Linked DNA regions of Homo sapiens. The protein of the gene in region 2 purifies or fractionates together with the protein of the main gene of each other region. This does not show direct contact. Each region holds a gene or a part of one and is shown on either strand. Other genes may lie near its edges. The genes, in order: SLK, MAP4 and FLNB.

Region 1 (7,107 bases), on a different chromosome or scaffold from region 2:
TGCTTTTTCACTGACAAAACAATTAAAAATGAATTTGTGGGGCTCATCTCTTAAAAAAAAACTAAATTGACAGGTCTGAGGGTAGCTGGAAATCTCTTTTTTTTGAAAAAGCTCTCAGGTAATTTTTAAACACTGCCAGCACTGGGGATCAAAATCTACTTAATCAGTAACAATAATATCGACAGCCCCTCCCTCCATCTCAGGGCCAGAGATATATGTATGATTTTAGGGTTACTAGAAAGACAGTGCCTCTGCTGCACCCAAAAGTACCAGATTTGGCTGCTAGCTATGACCTAAAATTCTTTATTAAGACTAAACTCTTCATTCCTCAACTGGTATCCAAAAACATTTAAATGCAAACAGAAATAACAGACATATAAGACTCCTACAAATACATTTTGGTAAACTAAGTGTTCAGGGCAGATACTTACTGGGTGTTGATATGGAAGAAAGGGTTAGAAGGCAGAGGAAGCAAAAATGGAATGTGAAAATGCTAAACTCAAAATGCATCCAAATTTTAAACAGTTTCTCTTTGGCACCTTCCAATCACCTTTCTGCATCCTCTCCTCTTACTGTTCTCTTCTCCAAGCTTCCAGGATCCTCATGCTCTTCTTCCAAAGTCCAGGACTATGGTACCCTACCCAGGATTCCTCTAAAATCTAAAGTTGGCAGACTCCAAAAAATACACCTATCTACACCTTAACCTCCAAACTTCACATTTCTTCAGCTCCTACTAAAAGTTCAATAATTAATATCTTCTTCATTCTTATACAAGTTATTTGCATTTTTAAAAGAGGCTATTAAGTCAGTGAATGAATTTCAGAGTGGTGGTTATTTCAGTCAGTGAAAGAAAGTAAACTGAAAAAAGAAGAAAATCCTAGGAATACATGTAAGAAAATCCTAGGAATTTGGGGCAGATAGGCAGACTAATCACTCATGCCCTAGAGATCCATCTATGTCAGTTTTCTTAGGTTGTTCCTGCTTTTCTGTCTTCTCTTCTGCTACTATCAACCCAGAGGGTCTAGGAAGTATTTTCCAAGGGGCAGCCCATGGATCACCTGCATCAGAACTCTGTGGGATCTTTTTTTTTTACAAATAGTGATCCTTGGGACCCACTCCAGACTTCTACATAGCCGCTAGTAACTCCTAAGCACACTAAAATTTGAGAATTACACTCAAAGCTCCAAGTGTTCTGGGCTTTAGTGTTTGTTTTGTTTTCCCCACAATGGTTCTCATGGCAGTAGCAATGTCTGTGACTGTATGGGCCAATGGTAAATCAAGGATTGTTTACACCCTAAATGTGCTTAAAAAGACATCATTCTTTCAATTTCTAATTCTCTCATACATTGTTGATTCTTGCTAATGTTGCATCTAGATATGTCCAATAAAGGAACCTAATCACACCAAGCAACCATATTACACTGTTTATCTGCATCAGGTCTGCAAAAATAGGTAGATCCTACCACAAAATTTAAAGATTAGATCCACAATCTCCTTAGTTCTTTTTAATTGCTTTCATAGGCTGTAAGAATTTATATTGTTAATACTACATTAATTTAATGCTGTTTTATTTTCAAGACATCAATTTCACATAAACTCTGAATTGAGAAAATGGCAAAGGAAAACCCAAACAATGACTCATGTACACTTACTTGTAAAGATATCGATCCACTGTCTTTAGTTTTACTTAGAAAGCTAGAGATGGATAAATTCAAGTCAATACTGCTAGTATCAGCAGTGGAACCAGTGCCTGAATCATTATCATTTTCCTTTGGATTCTCAGATTCTGGTGGCAGAATAGTTTCAGTTTTTGATAAAGAACCTATTTCTTCTTTATTTTCTCCACTGTCAGAGTTGATATTAATACTGGGTATTAGAACAGGCTGAGGTTCAGTGGGCTGTGAAACTACAGTAACTTCAGGCTCTTTTTTAATTGACACTGGAATTTCTTTTTTCTCTTTATCTATCTGAGTAGTGACTTTAGAAGCATCCTGAACTTCACTTCCTAAAGCCTTTTGGTCAGTATCAGCCACCACACTTCTGACCTCCATTTCTTCAGTGCTACTTGACTCAGTGATTTCTTCACCTTCAGTTGTTCCTGGTTCCTCATTGATGTCCATTATGTTCTCTGAACTGTTTATTGCTTGTTCCTTATTTTTACCTTCTTCTATTTCATTCATTTCAACTATTTCTTTAATAGGAACTTCCTTAGTACCACCAGCCTCAGGACCCACCATGGGCTTATTAATTAATTTCTGGCCTACTTCGACCACTTCTTTCCCATCATTACTCTGCGTATCCTCAGCACTGTCTTCATCCACTTTCTGAGCCACATCTGCTGCCTCACATGTTCCTATCACATCACTTGTATTGCTGATCACATCTTTTTGAGTTTTGTCGTCTTCCCCCAATTTCTCTTGGGTGTCTTCCTTTGTAAGCCCAACTTCACTATCAACTGCCTGAATATTTGCCTCTTTTTCTCCAGTCTCTTGAGAAACTAAATCTACTGTTTGCAAAATAGTATCTTTAATTTCTTCAGATTTTATAAGCTTATTTTCAAACATCTGTTGCTTTTCCTGATCCTTTTCTTCCTCAGATTTTAGATTATGTTCAATATTTGTTTCTAAGGTTATCATTATATTATTCTCTTTTCCTTCACTGACTGAATTAATGTCCACAGTTTCTTGGTCTTCTGTGTCAGGCAGATTTTCAAGCTTGGGCCTCTTCTCTCTTTCATTCTCCTTGATTACTGCTGTTCTGTCATGGAGTTCAGTCATTGCTTCTAACTGAGCATCGGTAATATGTTCATTAATATCCTCCACAGCCTTTTCAGGTTCATCAGTGGTGGGTTTTTCATTAAGAATTTTGCTGTTGAGTTTATCTTCAGAGTTACTACGTTCTGTTTTTTCTGAGACAGACTCCAAAATACAAGCATTTTGTGAAAGTTTATCTTCTTCAGAGCTGGCGATACTAAGGTCAGAAGATGCACGCTTACTTGCAGGTATTGGCTAAAAAAGATTTAATGTATTTTTAGTGTTAAAACATGACCTTAGAGTGACCAAAACAATGTTTACAGACCTACAGTGATTTCAGATCTTTATTCAGTAAATGTTGCTGAATTTAAAGAATTAACAATTCTTCTCACAAGAAATATAACAAAAATGGGCCGGGTGCGGTGGCACACACCTGTAATCCCAGCACTTTGGGAGACCGAGGAGGGAAGATCACTTGAGGTCAGGAGTTCGAGACTAGCCTGGCCAACATGGTGAAACCCCATCTCTACTAAAAATACAAAAATTAGTTGGGTGTGGTGGCGCATGCCTGTAGTCCCAGCTACTCGGGAGGCTGAGGCCCAAGAACCACCTGACACCGGGAGGCAGAGGTTGTAGTGACCACTGCACTCCAACCTGGGTGACAGAGTGAGACTCCATCTCAAAAAAAAGGGAAATATAACAAAAATGTGCAGCGACGAGCAACCTTGCTACTAATCTTCAGGTCTAAATTTAAAGGTTTTGCGTTGCCACCCATCAATCCTTAGATACAGGAGCAACTACACCTCAAAACCGAACTCTATTCACTAAATGAAATTTCTTTCCTAAATACTGACCAGAGAATTTTCTGTTTCCTCCTCTTCATCTTCCTCTTTGCCATCTTCAACTTCTTCTGTTACTTCAGCCTTCGCCTCTGCAATCAATTCTCGGATGGGTTTGTTGGAATCAACAGTAACAAAGGGATGCTGTTGATCATTAAAAAGAACATACTCAACAACTGGAATACTACTAAACTAAGTTTCAAACACACACAACACACATTCTTATGTGGTAAAAAATATGAACATGTGGGCAGGAAAATGACAGAAAACTTCAGATAATGCTACATCTGAGAAAGAAAGAGGGGAGAGGGCTTGAGCAAAAGCAGGGACTACCTGCAACTGGATCTGTACATTTTTAAGAATCTGAAGCAAATTTATCAAAAATGATAAGAATTGTTATATCTGGGTAGTAGGTACATGTACTTTCTGTGTGTTTGAAAACTTCGTAATAAAAAATTTTAATTGAAATTTAAAGCAAATGTCAGGTCACTACATTATTACTTTTTTTTTTTTTTTTTTTTTTTTTTTTGAGACGGAGTCTCACTCTATCACTCAGGCTAGAAGGCAGTGGCACGATTTCAACTTACTGCAATCTCCATCTCCCAGGTTCAAGAGATTCTCCTGCCTCAGCCTCCCGAGTAGCTAAGATTACAGGCATGTGCCACCATGCCCGGCTGATTTTTTGTATTTTTAGTAGAGACAGGGTTTCACTATATTGGCCAGGCTGGTCTGGAACTCCTGACCTCAGGTGATCCACCCGCCTCGGCCTCCCAAAGTGCTGGGATTACAGGCATGAGCCACTACACCTGGCCTCATTATTACTTCTTAAAAAGTAACCATCTCTATAAACCCTATCAAAGCCTCAAAATTATAAAAAGCTTTAGAATTCTGTTAGAAGTATCTATAAACACCTGTATTTTTGACATGGTTCTAAAATTCTTGAGAATGAGAAGCCATTTTACTCATCTTTGTATACTCAACATTTAACAGTGTCTGTCGCAGACTAAGGGCTTCAAGTGTGGGGGTAACAAAATAATAATAGAAAGTGTGTTCCAGGGGTATACTTGCTGCACACAACAAAGCAATTTTTTCCTGCTTTATTCCCCCAGATAAATAGGTCAACCTAAAACACTATGATGGAGTTACATAATAACCTAACAGTAATTGCCTCAAGATTTGTCATTTTATTTGCCCACCTATAAAATTGACAATTTTTAATTAATATATTACAAGTAGTCCTTCTATAAAGCAAAATTAAATTTACCCAATCGCTTTAACAACATTTTTTTAAGTCAACAATATTTACTATTTACCCTCACTGTAAGACATTTTTTAATTAATTAGTTCACGGCCCCTGTCCCCAAGGAGCTTGCTTTCTAGTAACTGGAGAGACATAATGGAAATAACTACCAAAATGAAAAGAACATAATTAAACTGAATCAAAAAAGCACAGGAGGAATAACGTTTAAGCTAAATGCCTGATGGTAACAGCAGCATTTATTTTGTAAAGCAAATGTTAACTACTGCCATTTTGACTCTCCACAGGGAAATTTAAGTGGAAAGAAAGCACACTGAATATGAAATTACATTCTTAGATGTTAAAATAATTATATTATTTGCTGTTGTCATACTCTCTTACCTGCAGCAGCTGAGATGTAGTCCACCTGGCATCCACATTCTTTTCTAAGCATTTCTTTAGAAAGTCCTTAAAATTTGAAGACCTTTAAAATAAATTTTAACAACATTCTATTTTACTTTCTTGTTAATCAAATTAAACAAAACTCTTTGATAAGTTATGCTTAAGTTTCATTATGTATGTAATAGTATTAATTCAACATTTAAATAACTAGTTAATGAGACTATTAAGATTTTGTAAAACTTATTCATCTGTAAATACATGTTAGACATATATGTAAGTAGGTACATAATCACTGAGACAGCCATATACTCACAAGTATGCCAAAAAGCACAAAATTTCTAATAAATTTCACAAATATAGATCAATCTATATACCTCACTTCCTCATAGTACAGAAAATACCTTTCTCATGCAAAACTCAAATCATTCATATTTTCAGATATATGGGAAAAGTGAGCTCGAAGAGTTTTAATGGTCTTTAAGAGAAATATACCAAAAATCACTTTTCTAATTCATATAGTCTTCGAACCATGTATCCAATTTTAAATACTCTTGGAAAATTGTGAGAATATAACATCAAGTTCTGCTTCCTAGTATCATTTGTTTCTTATTAAGCTTTTTTAAGAATATTTTTACCATCTGGATGGCTGTGCTAATGTAGGTGGCTCAGATTTTGCTATTTTTAGCAGCACTCGCATTGGATTTAATTCATGATGAGGTGGTTCTATCTCAGCCATTTCTATTAAAGTGATACCCAGGGACCAAACATCAGCTTTGTAGTCATAGGGTCTGTCCTTAGATGTTTCACACATGACTACTTCAGGAGCCATCCTATGAAGACAGATAATTAAAAGTTAACATGTTTAAGAACAGTGATTGCAAAACACATGGTATAATCAATTATGTGGACAAAAATTCATGAGTAATTATAACTGCTGACATGACTAATACTATAAATTCATAAAACTGAATACATACCAATATGGTGTACCAATAAAGGAATCTCTTCTTTGAATTGTCCTCGTGTTTTTAGCTGATACTCCAAAATCCGCTTGAAATAATCACACAAAAGCATTAATGAGAACTTTTAAGCATTGTTCATTGTATTCAATGGGGAGAAAAAGCATTTTAAGTCTTTAATAAGGCTAATCTTATTATAAAAAGTAAGTTAAACAGAAAGAAAAAGATGTCTCTCCCATCTTAATCTTGACCATCTCTTTCTACCATCTCCCAAAAAAACCTGCTAAAGATCCCATTATCAATACATTTAATACCACCTTATCTTCAGATGACAAATCCTCCAAAATTGAAAATAAAAAATGGTAACTCTAAAAGCAGACCAGTCTATCCACTTCAAAATAAATGCCAACTAGTGCTATGTGGCACAATTAAACTAAGAGTCATTAACATTTTTTCTATAGTGTGAAAAATAGAAATTATACTAAAGCAACCTTTAGGACAGTGTATGTCTTGCTAAATTCCTCATAAAATTATATTGTCAAGAAAAAATTGGGAACCTTATGTTTTCTGATTTAAATTATACAGAACAGTAACATTATAGCTTTTTCAGTTGTTAATCCCACCTTTTCAGCCTGGAGTTCACACAACATTAACAGCAACATAAAACTGCTATTGCTGCATAATTCACCTCATGCTATAAATGCACGAATTTTTAAGTTTCACATTTGATGCGACAATTCTCAAAGTTGAATAAGTACCAAAAATTCAGTATTTGATGCTCATGCCTACCACAGAGTATACACTCAATAAATGGTAGCTATTATTAGCCATATTCACAATTCTAACCTTTGTTGTTTTTGTTGTAGAACTCTTAAAGGTCATGCAATTCTGCCTGAATTACTTTTATCTATTATATG
Region 2 (7,107 bases):
AGTGGCTTAAGCTCCACGGTCAGCGTCCTGTCACCACTCGGAATCCACCTCCACTCTTCCCTCCAGGTAGATCCAGGGAGAAGGGAGGGCATGTCAGTTTCTTTTGGGTTTGGACCAAAGAACCAAAAAAAGATGAGGATAGAATCTGGTTCTCCTCTCCTAGATCCCAACTTAGCCTCAACCACCCCAACCCCCTCCCAACCTCCTCCACGGAGCAGTGGCGCAGTGATGGGGCAAGACCAAAGCAGGGAGATGGGCCCAGGCTGGGGAGTGAGAGGAGGTGTGGGGCAGGGCTGCTGCTGCCCCGGGCACGCAAAGCAGGAGGGAAGGCGAGCCTAGCGGGCTGCCCAGCACGGCGCCCAAGCGCTCACTGGTCTAGTGGACAGCCCGGGAAAGGGGGCCAAGGACCCGGGAGCCCGAGTTGGGGCCGCCAGGGAAGTGTGGGGGGCGGGAGACAATGTCGGCCCCGTGGTCGGTGCGGGCCCTGGCATTTGCCCGGAACGTCAGCCTGTAGGTCTCAATCTGCAGTGACATGGGAGGAGGGAAGGGAGAGGGGAACAGGGGAGACAAGAGGGGAACACGGGGGAGACGGAAGACGAGACCAGAATGTCATCATTAGATGCCTGGAAAATAAAAGGTTACTTCATTAAAATTTAGGCCACACTCTAGTCAAAAACAAAGGAGTTTCAATTTGCGGCCAGTGGCAGGGCCCCTGGCTGGCCCTTAGGCCGAGCCCAGCCACTTACTTGTCTCCTGGATCTGGCTGTCCAAGGTCTGGGCCTCCCTTTGGTCACCACCCCCTGACAGGGTGGGGTGGCCATTGAGGCCACTGGCTGAAGTGGGGGCGCCAGCTTCAGGCGCTGCCTCAGAGATGGCCGGCTCCTCCCCAGCAGGGGGACCCGGACACAGAGGAGCCTCGCTGCCACCGCCCTCAGTCTACAATGAAACAGTGGGGGAGACAGTGCAGGGTCAGTCGAGGGGGGGAGTGGGATGGGGTGATGGTGGTGGGTTTCACACACAGCCCCCACCCTTGCTGCCCTGGCACCCACTGGCTCAAGGCACAGTCGCTTGGAGAATCCCAGGCAGGTGCCCCGGCCCCACCCACCCCACCTCACCTGGGAGACCGACTCCCGAGGGTCAGGAGCAGCTGGACCAGTGACACACTCTCAGAGCCCCTCTGTGGCATGTGAGGCTCTGATGAAGCCTCTCTGAGGGCAGAGGTGCCAGGCCTCAGGCTGGTACCAAAGACGTAGCCATGACAACAGTAAGCAATAAGCCTGAAGGGTAGCCCCCTGAAGGGTACAGCCCACCCTCCCAAACCCTCCCTGAACCCAGGCCACCCCCTGCACACAGAGTGGGGTCCTCAGTAGCTCCCGGGCAGCCCTGCCTGCACATCTGTCTGGTCAGGAACACAGGTGCTGAGGCCTTGTCTGTGCGGGGCACCATTCTGGGACCAGGGGTCCATGGGAGGCAGAAAGGTGTCCAAGGAGGTATAACCCAGGGACACTGTGGAGGCCTGGAGGGCGTCATAGGAGGAGGACATTTGGGGGACATGGAACACTCAGTGTGAGGAAGGCAGAGAAGAGAGAACAGCTGCGAGAGGCCACTGGGGAGCTGGAAAGCGTGTGTCGCCAAATACCCAAAAAGTGACAAGGGAGAAGTGGTTTCTAATCGGCATAGTGAGAAATAGGCCTCGATTAAAAACAATAATTCCAGAACTAATAAAGGGATATAATGTGAACAAGGAAAAGAACACAAGGCTTAGGGTCAGAAAAGCCCAGATGTGAATCCTGGTCCACGCTCGCTCGCTGTGTCCTTGGAAAAGAGACTAAAGCCAAGTTAACGCCCCACTGAGACGGGCGTGAGAACGGCATCCTCACGAGGTATGGGGGGCACGAACTGAGAGCCTGTGGCAGCAAGGACCCCCCCAGATGTTCCTGGAAGCTGATCAAGGCTTCAGTCAGAGCATCAGGAGAGGATGGGACAGGGGACGGGCTGGGCAGTGGCTGGCACTGGGGAGCAGAGATGGAAGGGAAGGCCCAGGGCAGCGGCTCCTGGCCCCTCTCCCCTGCGCACCTGAACCCGAGCAGCAGCAGCCATCCTTGTGCTCGGGGTCTGCAAGATGCCCCTCATGGGCCCCCCACCCACGGATGACATGGAACATAGGACAGACAGCATCTTGGCACACAAAAGGTCTCACAGTACTGTGGAAGGAGGAAGGGAGGAAAGAGGAGAGAGGGAAGGGAGAAGAGGCCCAGCCAGTCGTGAGGATGGGAACCTCTGCCACTTGAGCTCTGTCCCAGAGCCCTGCAGAGGGAGGCCCCAGGCAGGCCCTGCAGAGGGAGGCCCCAGGCAGGCCCTGCAGAGGGAGGCCCCAGGCAGCCTGCTGTCGCTGGCAGCTAAGAATGTGCTGTCCTGCTCCTAACCCAGGAGCGGAGCCTGACATGGGGCGGGAACCCACATTCCCCTTGGCGCGAGACAGCTGGGGAGAACTGTGTGGTGCAGAACCCCCGCTCGCCTGGGGGTGGTCTGTGTCCCAGTCCGTGGCCTTCTCAAATGGCTGGATGGGCTCAATTAGGAAGGCCATGGCTCTCAGGAGCAAGGTTCTGCCTCCAGCTGACAGGTGAGGGGTGGCTGGGCTGGGGCCTCTTCACTTCTGCCTCAGTCAGGACTGATGATACACGGTGGGAAAACGGCAATGGTGTGGGTGAAGACATGACTCCTGAAGAGACTGAGGGGCGGTGACAGGTGCCTACCTGTGAGGACCCTGACCCTAACTGCATAGTTCCCACCCCTCCCCAGCTGTGTCTCCCCAGTGACCCACTCGCTACCTTCACAGCACCTCCTGCAGGTAGGTGGCCCACATTATCGAGGGATCCCACCTTGGCCTGGGCCTTCTCCTTGAAGTTCAACTTCTGACTTTCAATCTTGACATCTCCTCCACCTGGAACCACAAAGGAACTGGTCACCTAGGGTGGCAGAGGAATATCCCTGCAGGCAAAACCAGGACTAGCGATATGCCCAATCTAGAAATGAGACAGACGTGACCTGTTCTGGGTGGCAAATGAAGAACAGTGAACACGTTTGTCTAAAGAGGACTTCTCATATCACAGTGAGGCTGAGACAATCTCTCCGTCCAGCCAGTGGGAATACCTCCAAGAAAAGGAAAGCCATCCCTTCCACCACCCCATGCCACAGCCACTGAGCTGCAGGCCAGGCTTGGGCAGGCCTGGGGCTCCGAGCACAGCCTCCAGGGCGAAGCCTCTGCTTCTCTACTCTGTGTGGGAATGCCCTCCCGCTAACTGGGCCATGCAGTGCTTCTCAGGCACAGCCTCACTGAATTCTCATGAATGCCCTGTCATCACGGCCACGGTCCCTGCTTCCCAGCCGGTAAAACTGATGCTGCAAAAGAGAAGGGACTCACCCAGAGTTACCACCAATCTGCTGATTGACAGTGACAGGTTGTGAAAATTGTCTGAGACCCTAAACCGTACCACACTCTAGCAAAAAGAAGGAATAATAAAAAGGACAGAGTGGCCCCGAGGCTGTGCGCTGAGGAAGGAAAGACATGGACCAAGGCAGGCCTGGGATCTAGTGACCTCAGGCTAGGACGGGGAGGGAAAGTGGTCTGAACTCACGCCCAGGGTTCAGAGCTCACTGGCCAGAGTGTGCCCATGAGACCAAGGGGAAGGGTGCGGGACGAGCTGCCCTCAATGAGTACCCAGCCCCTCCCGCGCCCAGCAGCGTGGTTTCCCTTGGGCCCCTTCTCCTGTTCTTCCATCTCCTCTCAGCTCACATGGCAGACCTCCACGCACAGCTTCTGGCCGAGGTCTCCCGGTGTCCCATATTGGGAAACCCAGCCCTGGCAAAAACTAGACCCTAAGTGACTCAGTGTCATTAGAGAAGGAAGTATCTGATAGGAGATTTCCCAGATAAAAGGGGAAAAAAATGGTTAGTTAAGGACAGAACTGTTTTGATCTTTCTAAATAGAACACATTCTAAACTGGATCATGCTCTTCGCTGAGAGGGAAAGGGAGTTTTTTTTTTTTCTTTTTGGAGACAGAATTTCGCTCTGTTGCTCAGGCTGGAGTGCAGTGCCATACTCTCGCCTCACTGTAGTCTCTGCCTCCTGGGTTCAAGCAATTCTCCAAAGGCATGCACCACCACACCTAGCTAGTTTTTGTATTTTTAGTAGAGACAGGGTTTCACCATGTTGGCCAGGCTGTTCTCAAACTCCTGACCTCAAGTGATCCGCCCGCTTTGGCCTCCCAAAGTGCTGGGATTACAGGCATGAGACACCGCGCCCGCCCTGAGGGAAGAGAGTTTTGCCTTCACCTTATCTGGCCTGTGGTGGCTAGCCTTCTGGGATACCAGGTCTGCCAGCCAGTGTGCCTGCTGCTACAGCAGTCCTACTCACAAATCTGCTGTAGACCCAGGAACTAGGACACGAGGCTGCTAGGGGACTACCCAAGGCAAGAGCCCAGCCTCCGCACAGCGACTTCCACAGGGGCGCTGGGCCAACCATGTTGCTGGAAGGAAACTGCATTAGTGCAAGTTGCTGAACGCCTCCCATTCTCCTGCCAGGGCTAGCGGCTGATGCTTCACTGGTTGGGAGCACCCTTTGCTCCTGCATCTGATAGGTGGGACCTGAACACTGCCCTCTATACAGCTCCTTCAGCAGTAGCTTCTGTAATCCTCGTTTAGAGCCAATCCAGGTTCTCAGCTCAGAGTGCACCACTTCCCCAGGCCTAGCTCAATAGTTCCACACACACAGTAGGTACTCAAGAGAATGCCTGTGCAGATGGCTGCTGTAAGAAACTGCTCCTCCTCCACTTAGAGGTTAGCACCCGAACTCCTGCTCCCTGACAGAATGAGGACTGTGGTGTCCTGGGTAGTCTTCATGGGATGCTAAAGGCACAGAGATGAAACCCTTGCCAGCCAGCTGGCTGCCCAGCTGACCCATGGCAGGACGACATACCCTGGAGACCCAGTGGGCAAGGGAGGCACCACTCACCAGGCTTGTGCTTGATGTTAGCCTTAGACCCACACTTGGAGGAGACCTTAGAGATGTCCACTTTCTTGTTCTGAATCTGAACCTGAAGAGAAGGACACAAAAGACTCATTCAGAGAGAAGGTATACTGTCAGAGCCAACCCCATGCTACCTTTTAAATCTTCTCCATGTTCAGGGTTTCTCGCTCCCTCTGTAAGCTGCTATCTCAGTCTGGTCAAAGACAAGGTCATCTCCCTAAGTACTTAAAAGAGCCCTCGACCCACCCTGGCCCTGCTCTTCACTTCCTTTTTTTTTTTTAAAGATGGAGTCTCGCTCTGTTGCCCAGGCTGGAGTACAGTGGTACGATCTCAGCTCGCTATAACCTCCGCCTCCTGGGGTCAAGCAATTCTCCTGCCTCAGCCTCCCGAGTAGCTGGGATTACAGGCGTGTACCACCACATCTGGCTAATTTTTTGTATTTTTAGTAGAGACAAGGTTTCACCATGTTGGCCAGGCTGGTCTCGAACTCCTGACCTCAGGAGATCCACCCACCTCAGATTTCCAGAGCCCAGAGTGTTGGGATTACAGGCGTGAGCCACCACGCCTGGCCTTCACTTTTTTTTTTTTTTTTTTTAAGACAGAGTTTCACTCTTGTTGCCCAGGCTGGCACGATCTTGGCTCACCCCAGCCTCCATCTCCCGGGTTCAAGTGATTCTTCTGCCTCAGCCTCTGGAGTAGCTAGGATTACAGGCATGCGCCACCACGCCCAGCTAATTTTGTATTTTTAGTAGAGACAGGGTTTCTCCATATTGGTCAGGCTGGTCTCGAACTCCTGACCTCAGGTGATCCGCCTGCCTCAGGATCCCAAAGTGCTGGAATTACAGGTGTGAGCCACCACGCCCGGCCACCAGCCTTCACTTCTAACCCCACCTCCAGCCAGACCAAACCACCATTTCCACACCCCACAGGTCTTTCTGTGCAGACCCTGTCCATGCATGCTCCAGACAGCTCTTCTGTCATTTCACCAGGTCCAAACACCAGCACCAAGGCTCCCATGAAATATCCCCTTTATTCCATCTCAAATCCTTACCTATCAACTCCTTGCCCAGAGAACCTGGAATAACATATTTACTTCTAGTCCTTTTCAATGCATTTTCCCCTTGGGAGAGGTGAGGGGGTGGTGTGTGTGTGTGTGTGTGTGTGTGTGTGCGCGTTGTGTGTGTGTGTGTGTGTGTGTGTAATCATAGTATTCCTGCTTAATCCATGTTATAACAATTTTCCCAGCCAGGTGCAGTGGGTCATGCCTGTAATCCCAGCACTTTGGGAGGCTGAGGCAGGCAGATCACCTGTGGCTAGGAGTTTGAGACCAGCCTGGCCAGCACAGTGAAACTCTATCTCTACTAAAAATGCAAAAATTTGCATTTAAAGGTGGTGCACCTTGGCTGGGCACGGTGGCTCACGCCTGTAATCCCAGCACTTTGGGAGGCTAAGGCGGGCGGATCACGAGGTCAGGAGATCGAGACCATCCTGGCTAACATGGTGAAACCCCGTCTCTACTAAAAATACAAAAAAAATTAGCCGGGCGTGGTGGCAGGTGCCTGTAGTCCCAGTACTCGGGAGGCTGAGGCAGGAGAATGGCATGAACTCGGGAGGCAGAGCTTGCAGTGAGCCGAGATCGTGCCACTGCACTCCAGCCTGGGCAACAGAAAGAGACTCCGCCTCAAAAAAAAAAGGTGGTGCATCTTTAAGTCTATAGCCATGCATGCCCTCTGGGTTGCTGGATGGGGATTCCAGCATTCCTGTGAGCGGCCCCGCTGTCCTCTGGTAGGTACTGTGGGAGAGCCTGACTTTCCAACACATCAACTCCATGCAGTGTTGCACCATTCTGGTGGGTTTCACCACAAGCTGTTAAATGGTGAGCTACCTTCTTGAGCCCTGTTTTCCCTTCTTTGGTGTCAGGAAATATAGTCTTCACCATGTTTCCAGAGGACAGATATAATGCCACCAGTATTTTTGTATTTGCACCCACAGCCCAAGGCCTGGCACAGAATAACTACCCACAATCCCCAGCTTGCCAGAGCCATTCTCAATCTTTCCTCTAAAACTTGGCTCATGCC
Region 3 (7,107 bases), about 10 Mb from region 2:
TTCAAACCCTGTGTAAATATTGCTCTTGTCACAGGGAAGGCGCCTTGTTTTTCCAGCCCTCCTGCTCCCAAGCCTTTCCCTAAATATCCATTCTGAGATTACACAGCTGCAGTGTGCATGGAATGAAAAGGTATCTGTGCTTGGCCGCCAGAGCGCCCAGTATCCTGACCTTCTGAACAAAGCAAACCTCCCTCTGTTTTTAATGGGTGAGTTTGCTGTATCTCTTGGCTCAAGCTTTAAATGGTCCATTCTGTAGATTTTGGAGTAGGGGAATGTGGAGAATTTGGGGCGGGACCCTGCTGGAGGCGGCTTGAGAGGCTGGGAGATAGACCAGGGAGCTCCAGATTCTTTGGAGCCGCTGAGCAATTTTCCTAATGAAATGGTCCAGGAACCCCAGTGTGCTCGGGGTATACCAGAAGGGCCTCCTTCCTTAACTGCCTTGAAGAACAAGCAGTGCTGCGTTTAACATGCATTAAACTCACAGGAACTGAGCTGGACATATTTGAGGGGGTGGGGGAAGACCGCCACGCCCAGAGATGTTTTGTGGTGTCAGATACAGGTTATAGCTAGAGGCAGTGGTGAGAGACTTCTGCTTGTGGATTTTTTTCCTTCCATCTTCTCTCAGGTAAGTGCTTTAGCTCCAAGTTGGACAGACTTTATGTTTAAATCCCAGTTCTGCTGGTCCCCAGCTGTGTGACTCCAGATGAATTATCTGACTTCACTGTGCCTCTGCTTCCTTTCCTGTAAAACAGGATTAATAACAGGACCCACCTAATAGGCTTGTTTGGAGCTGTAGAGGAGGTAACAGCCAAGTAGTAGCTCTTGTCCCATAACCCCTGCTTTCTCTTTTCCCACCTCGTCTTCCCTGCCCTTTTGGGCCCTCACAGTCAAGATGAACTGATTTTTGGTTGGTCAAAATATTGCATTAGGGCCAAATGGGTGCGGTGGCTCATGCCTGTAATCAAAGCACTTTGGAAGGCCAAGGCAGAAAGATTGTTTGAGGCCAAGAGTTTGAGACCAGCCTGGGTGACATAGTAAAACTCCATCTCTACCAAAAAAAAAAATTTTTAAAGACGAACTTAGGAATGAAACAGCTTGTTAAAAAATGGTGGAACTTTCCCCTGCAGCCACATCATTTCAACTTCACTTTAAAAATATCTTTTTGGCCTGGCACAGTGGCTCACACCTGTAATCCCAGCACTTTGGGAGGTGGAGGTGGGAGGATCACTTGAGCCTAGGAGTTTGAGACCAGCCCAGGCAACACAGCAAAACCCCATCTCTACAAAAAAATTTAAAAATTAGCCAGGCGTGGTGGTGCATGCCTGAAGTCCCAGCTACTTTGGAGGCTGAGGCAGGAGGATGGCTTGAGCCTGGAAGATTGACGCTGTGGTGAGCTGTGATCATGCCACCGTACTCCAGCCTGGGCAACAGAGGAAGACTTTATCTAAAAAAAAAAATATTAGTAATAAGGCCGGGTGCGTTGGCTCATGCCTGTAATCCTAGCACTTTGGGAGACCAAGGTGGGCAGATCACTTGAGGTCAGGAGCTCAAGACCAGCCTGGCCAACATGGTGAGACCCCATCTCTACTAAAGAAATACAAAAATTAGCTGGGCATGGTGGCGAGTGCCTGTAATCCCAGCTAATCAGGAAGCTGAAGCAGGAGAATCGCTTGAACCTGGGAGGCGGAGGTTGCAATAAGCCAAGATCATGGTACTGCACTCCAGCCTGGGCAACAGAGCGAGACTCTATCTCAATCAATCAATCAATAAAATATCTTTCCTTATCATCACCTTACAGCTGCTTCCTGGATGGACACACTGTCTCCTTGTTGCTCACCTCCCGCTTCTTCCCTACGTAGCCCCAGGCCTCAGAGCTGCTGCTTGAGGGGCTTCTTGGCTGCACAGATTAGATACCATGATGAGGTTGAGATAGTGTTGGGGGTGGACCTTGGGGCAGGAGCCTCAAGAGCTTCCAGGAACAGCTGGGTTGTGTTTGAGAGTTGCACGATAGCAGCTCTTTTGTTTTTATTGATATCCAGAACAATAATTCTTTCTCTGGACTAGGAGCTATAATTAAACCAAAATATTTCCCAGCTGGGGCAGTGTCTAGGGCTCTGGCAGAAGCATAGCCCTGCATGGGGATGCTATGCCAGGCATGCCCCATAGAGGGCACTGTAGCAGGCATGCGCCAGACCTGATGACTGAAGGAGGCTCTCCCTGGGCCAGCTAAGTTGTCTCAGGGCTGCAGTTAGGGGATCTGAGGCAGCTCCACTGCCCATCCAGGGGTCAAGAGATGAGCCTGGCACCAGAGCCATGCAGACATGGTTCAAACCCGGCTCTACCACTTTCTGGTTGTGTAGCGTGACTGGCCCCCTCCCTGAGCCGCAGAGTCATTTGTGAAGCAGGAATCACGGAAAGGATTCCATACCACATGCGTAAATGGTGCTGTGCACAGGACCTGGAGCCGGAGTGGGGTACGCATGCCCCGTCAGCGGGAGCTGCTGTTCTGTTCCTGTGCTTGTTGCTGGAATTCACGGCAAAGTGGGTGGGCTGGCAGGTCACAGTGGCTGCACCCGGTCTGCAGCACAGTGCCTGGGGTGAGGGCTGAGGAGGAAGGGAGGAGATGCTTGGCCTCCCTGGCTTCTCCAAGTCTACCCGGAGAAGAAAGGACAGTCAGAGGGGCCCACGCCTCCCCCACACCCCTGGAGGGAGAGCTGGACTCTGGTGGCTGAAGCAGCACTTCAGGCTCACAGTGTGACTCAGGCTTCTTGCCCTCAGCCACAATGGCTCATGCCCAGAGGAGAGAACAGGGTGTCCAGGCTGTTGGTGCTTGTGGGCGAAATGTCAGCCATGCTCCTCCTGCCTTGGCCTAGAAAAGGGAGCCCCCACCCCGCAGGGCCTGAGGTTCTCTCTGCCAGAAGTTCAGAGCTAGTGCCAGTGGGTTCCCATGCCACCAGGGTGAGCCCTCTGTAAGGGGATCTATGTGTGTCCCTCACCACGGCCTCAGTGCTCCCAGGAAAGCCCTCCAAGTCATCAACACAGCATTTTCTATTCCTTTCTCCCAGGTATCCAGTCGGAATTCTTTATTAACACCACCCGAGCAGGTCCAGGGACATTATCCGTCACCATCGAAGGCCCATCCAAGGTTAAAATGGATTGCCAGGAAACACCTGAAGGGTACAAAGTCATGTACACCCCCATGGCTCCTGGTAACTACCTGATCAGCGTCAAATACGGTGGGCCCAACCACATCGTGGGCAGTCCCTTCAAGGCCAAGGTGACAGGTAACGAACAACCACCTTCGGAGTTACTCTCCCTTCCTGGGGAGCTGGTTGTGTCAGATCAATCATAGTGGAAACTATGGATGGTTTTAGATGTGTTAAAGCTACTTTGAACTTTGAATGTCAGTAAATAGTATGAGATGTCAGAGGGCAGTGTTTGAAACTTACAAAAGTCCACAGAGTGGAGCCGTGCAGAAGTTGAGAAAGCATGTTAGGATGTTAGGTGGTTTTCTATCTCTAACAGGAAAGAATACATATTGAAATCTTACGTATTTGTTTAGATCAGGGTCTGAAAAATCCCCTGATTTCTAATTTTCACTTGAAAAATAATCAAAAAGTTTTCCTATACTTATAAAAATGTGTCTCCTCCAAAACACTGGAAAAAATACCAAACTATGAAAACCACTTCACAGCCACCACCCAAGGTAACCACCATAAACACTGTAGTAAATCCCTTCCACACGTCATGATTCACTGTTACATAAAGAATGTAGGTTCATCGCAGGAAAATTAGAAAATTCAGATAGAAAAATCATCCTTTCTCATCCACAGAATCATTTTTTGATATTTCATTATATGTCATCCCAAACTTTTACACTGCTTATACATAGACTATTTTATGTCAATAGAAAGATGTGAATTCCACAGGCACATCTTTGGTGGGTAGGGGGTGGGGGGATTGGGAGGGTCCTTGGCCTTGTCAGCCAAGGCCAGACTCATCCATTTGCCCAGAAAGCCAGATCCTAGTTGTATGGGGGTGGGATCCTAGGGGTTTAGAAGACATTATGGGTGTGAGATACAGGTGTGGTGGCTTTTGTGTTGGGGTGCGCGGGCTCTCCTGGGGTTACTGTGTAGGGTACTCGCCTGTCCTCTGGCTGAGAGACCCCTCTTGATCTGGCCATTCATGCCTGTCCCCCTCCCTCCTGTATCTTAGGCCAGCGTCTAGTTAGCCCTGGCTCAGCCAACGAGACCTCATCCATCCTGGTGGAGTCAGTGACCAGGTCGTCTACAGAGACCTGCTATAGCGCCATTCCCAAGGCATCCTCGGACGCCAGCAAGGTGACCTCTAAGGGGGCAGGGCTCTCAAAGGCCTTTGTGGGCCAGAAGAGTTCCTTCCTGGTGGACTGCAGCAAAGCTGGTAGGTGTCTGGGCCTTTTCAAGGGTGGGGTGGGGCAGGGGCAGGCTGGGCACCCTGGGTACACTGGCCTTCCCTGCTGAGGTCTCCTGCAGTGCCCACCCCCATGTAGGCCAGCCGTTTGCAAGTAACCATCGTCATGACCCTGTTCTCCTGCACTTAATATTTTTAAATGATTTCCTTCTCTTTTGCCTTTTGAACTTGGGTATTTATTTGGGTTTCAAGGGTCGGTTGCCTGGGTTCTGGCATCCAGTACACCTGGGCTGGAAACCTAGTACCGCCACTTCATTCATTCATTCGTTTGTTCTAAAACTTATTTAGCCATGTGACCTTGGAAAGTTATTAAATCTCTTTCCAAAAGTCAGTTTCCTCTTCTCGGAAGTACCTTCCTTAAGGTGCTTGTGAGAGTAAACAAGAAGATTCTCATAGCCAACACTTAGAATAGCCCTTACTGTGTGCTAGGTTTTGACACCCATAACTCTTAAACCTCACAACTAGTTCGTGAGGTATGTGCTGTTCTCATTCCCTGTTTACAGATGGGGAAGCTGAGCTAGGGAGAGGTGAGATTCCAGTCCAAGGTCACCCAGGTAGCAAGTGGCAGGGCAGGGATTCGAACCCACACCGTCAGGCTCTATGAGCCTCTGCTTGTAATTGCCACGCTCTCCCACCTCTTAGGGGCCCCAGCATTATCGTGGAAGCACCTTACCTTTGGCTCTCATATTTCCTCTTCTTCCTGTGCCTGTCCTGATGCATCCGGGTGGAGTAACCACCTTTTGCCTCCTAGGCTCCAACATGCTGCTGATCGGGGTCCATGGGCCCACCACCCCCTGCGAGGAGGTCTCCATGAAGCATGTAGGCAACCAGCAATACAACGTCACATACGTCGTCAAGGAGAGGGGCGATTATGTGCTGGCTGTGAAGTGGGGGGAGGAACACATCCCTGGCAGCCCTTTTCATGTCACAGTGCCTTAAAACAGTTTTCTCAAATCCTGGAGAGAGTTCTTGTGGTTGCTTTTGTTGCTTGTTTGTAATTCATTTTATACAAAGCCCTCCAGCCTGTTTGTGGGGCTGAAACCCCATCCCTAAAATATTGCTGTTGTAAAATGCCTTCAGAAATAAGTCCTAGACTGGACTCTTGAGGGACATATTGGAGAATCTTAAGAAATGCAAGCTTGTTCAGGGGGCTGAGAAGATCCTGAGTACACTAGGTGCAAACCAGAACTCTTGGTGGAACAGACCAGCCACTGCAGCAGACAGACCAGGAACACAATGAGACTGACATTTCAAAAAAACAAAACTGGCTAGCCTGAGCTGCTGGTTCACTCTTCAGCATTTATGAAACAAGGCTAGGGGAAGATGGGCAGAGAAAAAGGGGACACCTAGTTTGGTTGTCATTTGGCAAAGGAGATGACTTAAAATCCGCTTAATCTCTTCCAGTGTCCGTGTTAATGTATTTGGCTATTAGATCACTAGCACTGCTTTACCGCTCCTCATCGCCAACACCCCCATGCTCTGTGGCCTTCTTACACTTCTCAGAGGGCAGAGTGGCAGCCGGGCACCCTACAGAAACTCAGAGGGCAGAGTGGCAGCCAGGCCCACATGTCTCTCAAGTACCTGTCCCCTCGCTCTGGTGATTATTTCTTGCAGAATCACCACACGAGACCATCCCGGCAGTCATGGTTTTGCTTTAGTTTTCCAAGTCCGTTTCAGTCCCTTCCTTGGTCTGAAGAAATTCTGCAGTGGCGAGCAGTTTCCCACTTGCCAAAGATCCCTTTTAACCAACACTAGCCCTTGTTTTTAACACACGCTCCAGCCCTTCATCAGCCTGGGCAGTCTTACCAAAATGTTTAAAGTGATCTCAGAGGGGCCCATGGATTAACGCCCTCATCCCAAGGTCCGTCCCATGACATAACACTCCACACCCGCCCCAGCCAACTTCATGGGTCACTTTTTCTGGAAAATAATGATCTGTACAGACAGGACAGAATGAAACTCCTGCGGGTCTTTGGCCTGAAAGTTGGGAATGGTTGGGGGAGAGAAGGGCAGCAGCTTATTGGTGGTCTTTTCACCATTGGCAGAAACAGTGAGAGCTGTGTGGTGCAGAAATCCAGAAATGAGGTGTAGGGAATTTTGCCTGCCTTCCTGCAGACCTGAGCTGGCTTTGGAATGAGGTTAAAGTGTCAGGGACGTTGCCTGAGCCCAAATGTGTAGTGTGGTCTGGGCAGGCAGACCTTTAGGTTTTGCTGCTTAGTCCTGAGGAAGTGGCCACTCTTGTGGCAGGTGTAGTATCTGGGGCGAGTGTTGGGGGTAAAAGCCCACCCTACAGAAAGTGGAACAGCCCGGAGCCTGATGTGAAAGGACCACGGGTGTTGTAAGCTGGGACACGGAAGCCAAACTGGAATCAAACGCCGACTGTAAATTGTATCTTATAACTTATTAAATAAAACATTTGCTCCGTAAAGTTGCCTTGGTGTTCTTGGATGATGTCGCTTCTGAATAAATTGTTTAATCCTAGGAGTTCAACACCCTCAGCCTGGGTAACAGCAAGACCCAGCCTCTACAAAAAATTAAAAAATTAGCCAGCATGGTGATGCATGCCTGCAGTCCCAGCTACTCAGGAGGCGGAGGCAGGAGGATTGCTTGAGCCTGAGAGGCCAAGGTTGCAGTGAGCTGTGTTTGCAACCCTGCACT

The links.
Region 1: the proteins of MAP4 (region 2) and SLK fractionate together in Homo sapiens (co-fractionation; 2 studies listed by BioGRID). This does not show direct contact.
Region 3: the proteins of MAP4 (region 2) and FLNB fractionate together in Homo sapiens (co-fractionation; 2 studies listed by BioGRID). This does not show direct contact.

What each region holds. Positions count from the first base shown.
Region 1 is NC_000010.11:103,998,073-104,005,179, reverse strand, and holds part of SLK (STE20-like serine/threonine-protein kinase), read right to left. Parts: intron 6,282-7,107; coding exon 6,209-6,281; intron 6,062-6,208; coding exon 5,867-6,061; intron 5,314-5,866; coding exon 5,232-5,313; intron 3,737-5,231; coding exon 3,608-3,736; intron 3,009-3,607; coding exon 1,653-3,008; intron 1-1,652. UniProt on the Homo sapiens protein: Mediates apoptosis and actin stress fiber dissolution.
Region 2 is NC_000003.12:47,852,417-47,859,523, forward strand, and holds part of MAP4 (microtubule-associated protein 4), read right to left. Parts: intron 5,097-7,107; coding exon 5,015-5,096; intron 2,945-5,014; coding exon 2,832-2,944; intron 937-2,831; coding exon 747-936; intron 642-746; coding exon of another isoform or gene 616-641; exon of another isoform or gene 523-615; coding exon 518-522; coding exon of another isoform or gene 376-517; 3' UTR 1-375. UniProt on the Homo sapiens protein: Non-neuronal microtubule-associated protein. Promotes microtubule assembly.
Region 3 is NC_000003.12:58,165,375-58,172,481, forward strand, and holds the end of FLNB (filamin-B), read left to right. Parts: exon of another isoform or gene 1-741; intron 742-3,065; coding exon 3,066-3,284; intron 3,285-4,215; coding exon 4,216-4,419; intron 4,420-5,122; exon of another isoform or gene 5,123-5,200; coding exon 5,201-5,388; 3' UTR 5,389-6,402; coding exon of another isoform or gene 6,403-6,499; 3' UTR 6,500-6,696; coding exon of another isoform or gene 6,697-6,787; 3' UTR 6,788-6,877; downstream 6,878-7,107. Other genes in the region: uncharacterized protein LOC124909485, read left to right, coding at 6,403-6,499, 6,697-6,787. UniProt on the Homo sapiens protein: Connects cell membrane constituents to the actin cytoskeleton. May promote orthogonal branching of actin filaments and links actin filaments to membrane glycoproteins. Anchors various transmembrane proteins to the actin cytoskeleton.